Homo sapiens: one gene and its partner. The protein of the gene in region 1 purifies or fractionates together with the protein of each later gene. This does not show direct contact. Each region holds a gene or a part of one and is shown on either strand. Other genes may lie near its edges.

Evidence for each region.
Region 2: the proteins of TM9SF2 (region 1) and TACR1 purify together in Homo sapiens (co-immunoprecipitation; one large-scale study listed by IntAct). This does not show direct contact.

Annotation. Positions count from the first base shown.
Region 1 is NC_000013.11:99,560,148-99,564,548, forward strand, and holds the end of TM9SF2 (transmembrane 9 superfamily member 2 precursor), read left to right. Parts: intron 1-2,543; coding exon 2,544-2,611; 3' UTR 2,612-3,901; downstream 3,902-4,401. UniProt on the Homo sapiens protein: In the intracellular compartments, may function as a channel or small molecule transporter.
Region 2 is NC_000002.12:75,192,743-75,196,566, reverse strand, and holds part of TACR1 (substance-P receptor), read left to right. Parts: intron 1-3,824. UniProt on the Homo sapiens protein: This is a receptor for the tachykinin neuropeptide substance P. It is probably associated with G proteins that activate a phosphatidylinositol-calcium second messenger system.

The DNA of each region.
Region 1 (4,401 bases):
CTTAGGAATTATAGCACCTTCCTTTGTCACAAGTAACGCTGCCCGAAGCGTGCATCTAAAATGTTAGCTCCTCACGCATGTCATGGAAGAAAATGCAGGAGCCAAAAAGAAAAAAGAACAAGTTTTTTTCCTCCAATTAAAACTGTTCTACTTTTCACTCATCTGTTAGCATTTCAGAGCCTGGAGTCGGGTTTTGAAGGGCCTCTGCTGCTGTCTCAGGCTTAAGGCACTTCCATCGATTCTGTATTCCAGGTCATTGATCAGACATGGTGGGGTGCGTGTCTTGGTGCTACGTGATAAATTTAGGTCCAGAGCTGTAAATTTTAATAAATCATCTATAAAACAGCAGTAGCCAGTGAAACAAGGAATGACTGTTTTTGTGCCCTGTGTGTCCATAAATGCATATACAGAATAATTTATTCCTAGCCTACACACAAAAAATAACGATCATTGTGAATATCTGTTGTTTTTCCAGACATATGATACAGAAAATGATAGCTTAACCATCACCTAAATTTTATTTATTTTTATTTATTTTATTTTTATTTTTTTGAGACGGAGTCTCACTCTTTTGCCCAGGCTGGAGTGCAGTGGCGCGATCTCAGCTCACTGCAAACTCTGCCTCCCAGGTTCACGCCATTCTCCTGCCTCAGCCTCCCGAGTAGCTGGGACTACAGGCGCCCGCCACTGCGCCCGGCTAATTTTTTTTATTTTTAGTAGAGATGGGGTTTCACCATGTTAGCCAGGATGGTCTCGAACCCCTGACCTCAGACGATCTGCCCGCCTTGGCCTCCCGAAGTGCTCGGATTGGGCGTGAGCCACTGCGCCCAGCTGATTTTGTTTTTTAAAGTGTTATATTTTCATTCATTCAGAGTTGAATTTTGTAATCTGAATTATGGAGTCATATCAAATGGAACCAACCAGTTAAACCAGTAACTTATAGTGTATTTCACTTTCTTCAATTGTATTTTTCCTTTAGTGAACAGGTGGAAGCATTCTGGATAAGGGAGTAGTGAGCCCTTTAAATGCCTTACCTTTCTCTAAAATAGGGTATGGTCTGTATTTGCTTCAGTACTCCAGAGCAATGCCATTTTATTGTATTTAAGTCAATCCATTTTACAAAACAGAAGTAATTATTCTGTCACAAAAGGAAAGACGCCACTTTTAGTACGTACATATATTCCATATTAAGAACAAAATTAAGTAACTAAACTTAAGTTTCTTAGAGTTGCCTGGATAGTGATTAAATGTTCTTCTCATCTTAAAATATTGTTTGTCATCTTGAAATTTATGCAAGTAAGTACAAAGTTATATAAATATACTGAGTTTTCATTATTGCTTTTCTGAAATTAACCCCAGCCCTAGCCTGAATAATTATCCTTTTGACTATGCAAAAGGTATATTTGTATGTCCTCCAAAACACACATTGTGCTTTGCATATAGTAGGGCCTCAATACATGTACAATGTAAGGATGGATATAATGATGTTTGTAATTTCCCACGGTAATGTCCCATGTATAGTCTCTTGATTTAGAAAATCTCCTTTAATATTTTCTCAGAGTACTGCATTTAAAACAATGGTGAAAACTATTGGGACTTTAAATGTAAAATTTATACAAGGATTATTTATAGTCCCTTATGTGTGCATGTGCAAGGAGTACTATGCTTGAAGTCAGAAAAAACGCATTTGATTTCTGGCCACAAGTACCATCCATGTGACCATGAGACAGTCACTTAACCCCTTTGAACCTCATTTTTGTCTCATTGAAAGAGTGTCCCCATCTAGCATTCAAATTCTTTGGAATCTAGACTGATACCTGAAAATCAAGCCATACATTGTTTTCATGAATTATCTCATTTACTCTACATAATAGTCTATGGAGGCAATGAGGACAGATAAATTTCTCCCTAGTTAATATGATAAATGGGCTTGGAGATGTCAGTGGACTTGCCCAAGGATGACACACACAGTTTGTGACAGAGCTGCTCTGTTCTCTGCTACCATGCTGTCCCTCATTTTCAGCTAGGATGCATTTTTGTTACTATCTAATCATGTCACTTTTAACATTTTGTAAAAACTTACTGAGTTATTTTATTATAATTCTTTGAAGACTGATAACTTCCAATAACTGTACTTAGAAAATATCCCCATTTAATCATTATTTGAACCTGTTTTAATGTATTCATCTCATACCTTAAAAAATTCTAGTAGCGTTTTCCATTTTGTTGTAAAATATTCTTAAATAGGAAAGGACAGTTGACATCCTTCAGTCTTTTCTATGTAGTAAGGAAAATAATGTGTATTGTAGAAAGCTTAGGTAATCTTATAGTAGAAAAAAGTTCTACCAATTTTTGTAAGAAACTTGATTTGAGGTGGTCGTATATTTTTCAGACGTGCTCATAGATCTGTAGTATATTCCCGGTGGGTAATAGTTTATAGTTTTGCGACTTTTTTAAGGAACCAGTCATTGTAAGTCTGTATTTTTGTGTAAAGTATGAAACTTCCTTTGAAAAGGGGTTTATTTTTATTTTTTCTCTTATAGGAACAATTGGCTTCTTTGCATGCTTTTGGTTTGTTACCAAAATATACAGTGTGGTGAAGGTTGACTGAAGAAGTCCAGTGTGTCCAGTTAAAACAGAAATAAATTAAACTCTTCATCAACAAAGACCTGTTTTTGTGACTGCCTTGAGTTTTATCAGAATTATTGGCCTAGTAATCCTTCAGAAACACCGTAATTCTAAATAAACCTCTTCCCATACACCTTTCCCCCATAAGATGTGTCTTCAACACTATAAAGCATTTGTATTGTGATTTGATTAAGTATATATTTGGTTGTTCTCAATGAAGAGCAAATTTAAATATTATGTGCATTTGTAAATACAGTAGCTATAAAATTTTCCATACTTCTAATGGCAGAATAGAGGAGGCCATATTAAATAATACTGATGAAAGGCAGGACACTGCATTGTAAATAGGATTTTCTAGGCTCGGTAGGCAGAAAGAATTATTTTTCTTTGAAGGAAATAACTTTTTATCATGGTAATTTTGAAGGATGATTCCTATGATGTGTTCACCAGGGGAATGTGGCTTTTAAAGAAAATCTTCTATTGGTTGTAACTGTTCATATCTTCTTACTTTTCTGTGTTGACTTCATTATTCCCATGGTATTGGCCTTTTAAACTATGTGCCTCTGAGTCTTTCAATTTATAAATTTGTTATCTTAATAAATATTATAAAAATGTCTTCATTGCATCATTACCTATTATATATTCAAGGAGGTTCTGTAAATACAGATCTATTTACCAAGGTGTTTTGAAATGATTTATACTATTTTATCAGATTTTACTGGATTTTGTTAATGTAACACTTTCTGAGTTTTGATCTGAATGGAATTTCACTGTGTAAGGCATTGTCTAAAATGTTCACTGTGAGGCAGTAGAGGAGGTTGAAGTCATGCATATCTAGACAGATGAATTATCTGCAAGTACTTAAGGTGGAGCCTTACTACATTGTCATTAAGGAGTTTCTATTTTTGACTTGTTTTTCAAAATACAGTGTTTTAAGTCAGGTTTTATTACCTGGACATTAGCAATCACTAGCAAGTCTTCATCTTTATGATTTCATTGTTTTAATTTAGATTTCACAAACAGTTTTACTTCTAAGAGTTAAGAAATGCACTGTCTTTCACATTCATCTGACTAATTGAAATCCATTTATGTAGAATATAGGAATGGGGGGTGATTCTGAAGTATCGGTCTGCTTGTATCTGTGAGCATATTCATTTGTATTTTAGGGTCTCTCTGCTTGCTGCTTAGGAGAGCAAATCAGATACTGTCATTAAACTTACAACTAAAATTACTAGCTGTCACTTATATGATATTGCTGGGTTCTTACTGAATAATTTTTTTTTTTTTTTGAGACAGAGTTTCCTTCTTGTTGCCCAGGCTGGAGTGCAATGGCGAGATCTCGGCTCACCACAACCTCCGCCTCCCAGGTTCAAGCAATTCTCCTGCCTCAGCCTCCTGAGTAGCTGGGATTACAGGCATGTGCCACCACGCCCGGCTAATTTTGTATTTTTAGTAGAGACGGCATTTCTCCATGTTGGTCACACTGGTTTCAAACTCCTGACCTCAGGTGATCTGCCCGCCTCGGCCTCCCAAAGTGCTGGGATTACAGGTGTGAGCCACTGCGCCCAGCCTTACTGAATAATTTTATGTCACTGTCCTTTTTTAAAAAAACGGACCTGTTGGTTTTGAAGAGTAAAGGAGGAGCTCTGTTCATTTTTAACATGGAATATTTAAGATAGAAGAGTTTCTTTCAGTTTTATGTATCTCTTGTATTTATTTTTTATGGGTAGAGTTGTCCCTTAGTATTTATGGGAGATTGGTTCCAGAACCCTT
Region 2 (3,824 bases), on another chromosome or scaffold:
CCGACCCTCTGTGATACCTGCTCAGTGAGACCAAAAGGTCTCGGATGCCAGAGCTTTAGGAAATGACAGCGACAGGGAATGTCACCATGTTTCCAACATGCAGATACAGCCCAGGGAGGTTACCAATGGCATTCCTAAGATTAGAGTTCAAGGTAGAATTAGGGATGAGACTTCAGGTCTCTGTCTCCATGTCTGCCAAGTGCTCCTTCTATTTTTTCTTGCTCAGCCTGGTGAGCACACTATAAACTCACCCCCTCAGGCCTTCCAATGAATATATTTCCTGCATGTGTGGTCATCCATTCTCTCCCAAGAATGTATTGGAAAGAAAGGGGGCTTTAAGTCCTCTCCCTGTAAGTTATCTCCCTTTTCTCCAGCATGGAAATGCAGACTTAGAGGAAATATTAAATCAGCTGTTTGTATATTCCTTGAATTTTTAACAGACAACCTTTGAATCAAGTCTTTAAAAATAACAGCAATGTGGCTTTCCTGATTGTAAAATTAAACCTGTTCACTGCAGAAGACTTGGGAAATATGAAGAGCACAAAAATCCAATCCCCCTTACCTAACCGACAAGAAGCAACACCTGCTAACCTTTGAATTTCTCTTTTATGACTATTATACTACATAATTGAGGTTAGATTCTATATAATTTTGTAGCCTATATTTTTCCATTGGTATTAATGAAAGACTTTAATAACACCTTCCTGTGTTATTCAAAAGTTTTCAGAAACATAATCTTAATGGCTTCATACTATTCTATTATGTGAATATGCTATTATTATTTACGTAGTCATTTCTCTACTGTTGTGTATTTAGGTGATTTCTAGATTTTTGCTATTATAATTAATAATCTAAGGAATATTTATATATGATAATTTTGTTTTGCCTTCTTGATTATTTTCTTAAGATAGATCCCAATAAGTAGAATTACTACATCAAATAAAATGAATTTTTAAAAAGCTATATCTTCTCATTTTAAAGGATTTTTAAAGGAATTGTTGAGTCAAACTATCTTGGTAAACTTTGTCAAATTTCCTATTAGAATCAAGATATATGCGGAGAAAAACTTCAGTTGCAGATTGCAGTACTAATTTAAATGTTTCCTGTAGTCTTTCTACAGGAAAGGTGGGGTGGGGTCAGGGAAGGAAAAAAAGGGATGGGGGGAAAGGAAGGGAAGGTAGGAGAAGGAGGGAAGAGGGAAGAAAAGTGGGAGGTGGGAAGGGGATAGGAGAGGAGGGGAGGGAAGAAATATCTCCATTAGAAAGAGTTTTATTTTTTGAAGGCAGCAGTTACCTAGAATTTAAAAATGTTTCAGAGACAAATGTAGCTAAATAAGATCAGGTTTACCTCTATCTAAACTCCAACAAATACCAGGGATTTTAGCTATTGAAACTCTATAATTTCTCTGACTTAGAATTTAAAAATTCTTTACAACTATAAAACTAAAAGGTATGTATGATGTTTCATGAAATTTGAAGATGGGGGACACAGAGAGGTGATGACTCCCCCCTCAACAGCCCCGTTCCCCTAACCCCCATTTTCAGGAGTTGGTGACAATTACTGGTTCTATTATGATGCTCTGGCAAGTACTGTGGAGCAGAACCTAAGAAGGGAGTAGAGGAAGGGAGGCAATCTCCAAGCCCTGCAGGGAGCTGGGGAATGGGCAACAGATAACCTGATTTGAAACCATGCACATAGCAACAGGAGCAACAGCGAGGTCCAGACAAGCACTGGCCTGGTATCACTGTTTCTCTACCTGGTAGGGGCAAGCATAATTTCAGCAAAATGAAAGGTAGCAGTTGCTCACTCAGACTCCAAATAAAATGGTCTCTCTGAGACCAAAAAATATAGTTGCCCAGAGAGAGTAATGGTTGAAGGCAAAAGAGGAATTGAGCTCTCTGAGAGAGCTGATAATGTAAAAGAGGAACCTAGAACAAAAACATGAATAAATCACAAAAACTTTGTCCACTGAACTCGTGTCTACACACTCTGTCCCAGCCATACTCAGCTACCAATTTAAATATCCTGCTTTCCAGGTCTCTATTAGACCTGCACTCTATCCTTGAACTTTACCTTGTTGGTTGAACTGCAATCTCATTGTTTATCTCAGAGCAGTCTTCCCTCACCCCACCTGGAGGGGGAATTAAATTCCAGGATCCTTTGCACTAATTCGGATGGCCCTGGAAACCCATTACCATGCACTGCTGTGATGCTGTGAATGGCCATTCACTAGAAGCTCATTGGCCACAACTGGCCCTGTCTTTTCCAATGTCAGCATTGATGTGGATCAAAATGGAGTTTGTTAATTCTCAGATGGGTCATTTAGATTTCAGGGCCTTTCTTCAAGAGGTCCAATGCCCACCTCCTCTCTGGAGCTGCTCCGTTACACTTGCCACACTCTCTCCCTACTCCTGGGAGCCTGCAGTGTCCTGAATGGTCAAGGGTGTTACTTTTTTAAAAAACTGGAAGAAATCATAGTTTGAATTGGAGGCAAATAAAGAATAATTCTCAAAATAAAAGCACATAGCACAAGCACAAGACACTGTTACTATTATTGTTGCTGAATTAGAGTGAGGATCATGAGACAGAAACACCATCAAACTTAGATAAAGATATTCAGTCTATCAAGTGTTGATGCCATCAAGGTAAGGTGAGGTTTCCTAACTCACAGCCTTGTTTATTCCCTCAAAGGGCTATATATGAAGGCAAATAAGACTGATTTAGAGGTAACTAAAATATAAGGTATTAAGTAAAATGTTTCATATGGGTTGTACAGATATATTCCATAGGAGACAAGAGGAGGGACATCCTGCCCAGCAGTGATGAATGATCAAGGAAGACCTCAAGATAGGGCAACTGAGTTAGGCCTTGAAGATTAGATAAGATTTTTAGAGAAGTTGATTAAAAAAAAAAGAAATGACCTTTCAGGTAGAAGAAGCTGTATGACAGAAGCATGGAAGTCAAATGTTGCAAAGTGCCTCAGGTCAATGACAGACTGATTCAACCGAAGTGAATTCACAGGTGAATCAGGGAATGAATTGAGGAGTTGCCCAGAAAAATATGAGAATACTCTATGTTGAATTTGACATGAAAATATAACGATTAGTTGGAATGCCCGACAAGAAACTTGAGAAGTGAGGCTAGAGAATGACAAGCCAGGGATCAAAGAGACAATATCAGCAGAGAATGGTAAGAGGAAATAAAATTAGATGGCAGTGAAGGGAATGATCTCTTTCCTCATCCATCCGTCCATCAAACCACTATTGAGCACTTACTGTGTGCCATATTCTGAGGCAGTAAGACATTGCCTTTGCCATTGTGTCTCAGTCTTTGGAGATTAACAAGGTCACGAACAGCATATAACCCAATGCAATCAATGCCATGCAGAGGGAGCAGAGTTAGAGCAAAGAACTCCCTTGGGAATATGGGAAAGACTTCCTGGTAAAAGGAGAAGAAGAAGGAGAGGGAGGGCAGTAGGGGAGAGAGGATGGAGGGGAGAGAAAAGAGAAGGAGGAGACAGAATGAAAGAGAATGAAGAGAAAGAAGAGGAGGAAACGACAAAGAGGAAGAGAGGCAGCAAGGCACAGGGAAATGAATGTGGAGTTTTGTGTTTTAATTAACTTCAAGAACACTGGATTGGGAATACTCATAATAATTTATTAATATCCATCATTTGGAAACTAGAAAGGAAGTTTTATGTTAATAAAATTGATAATGATATCTTTTATTTATGTTCCCTCCAGTCCATTGTCTCATTTAATCTTCATCATGCCAATGAGGATTCTGTTTCAACCTGGAAGAGCGATTAGAAACAATTTCTTTTA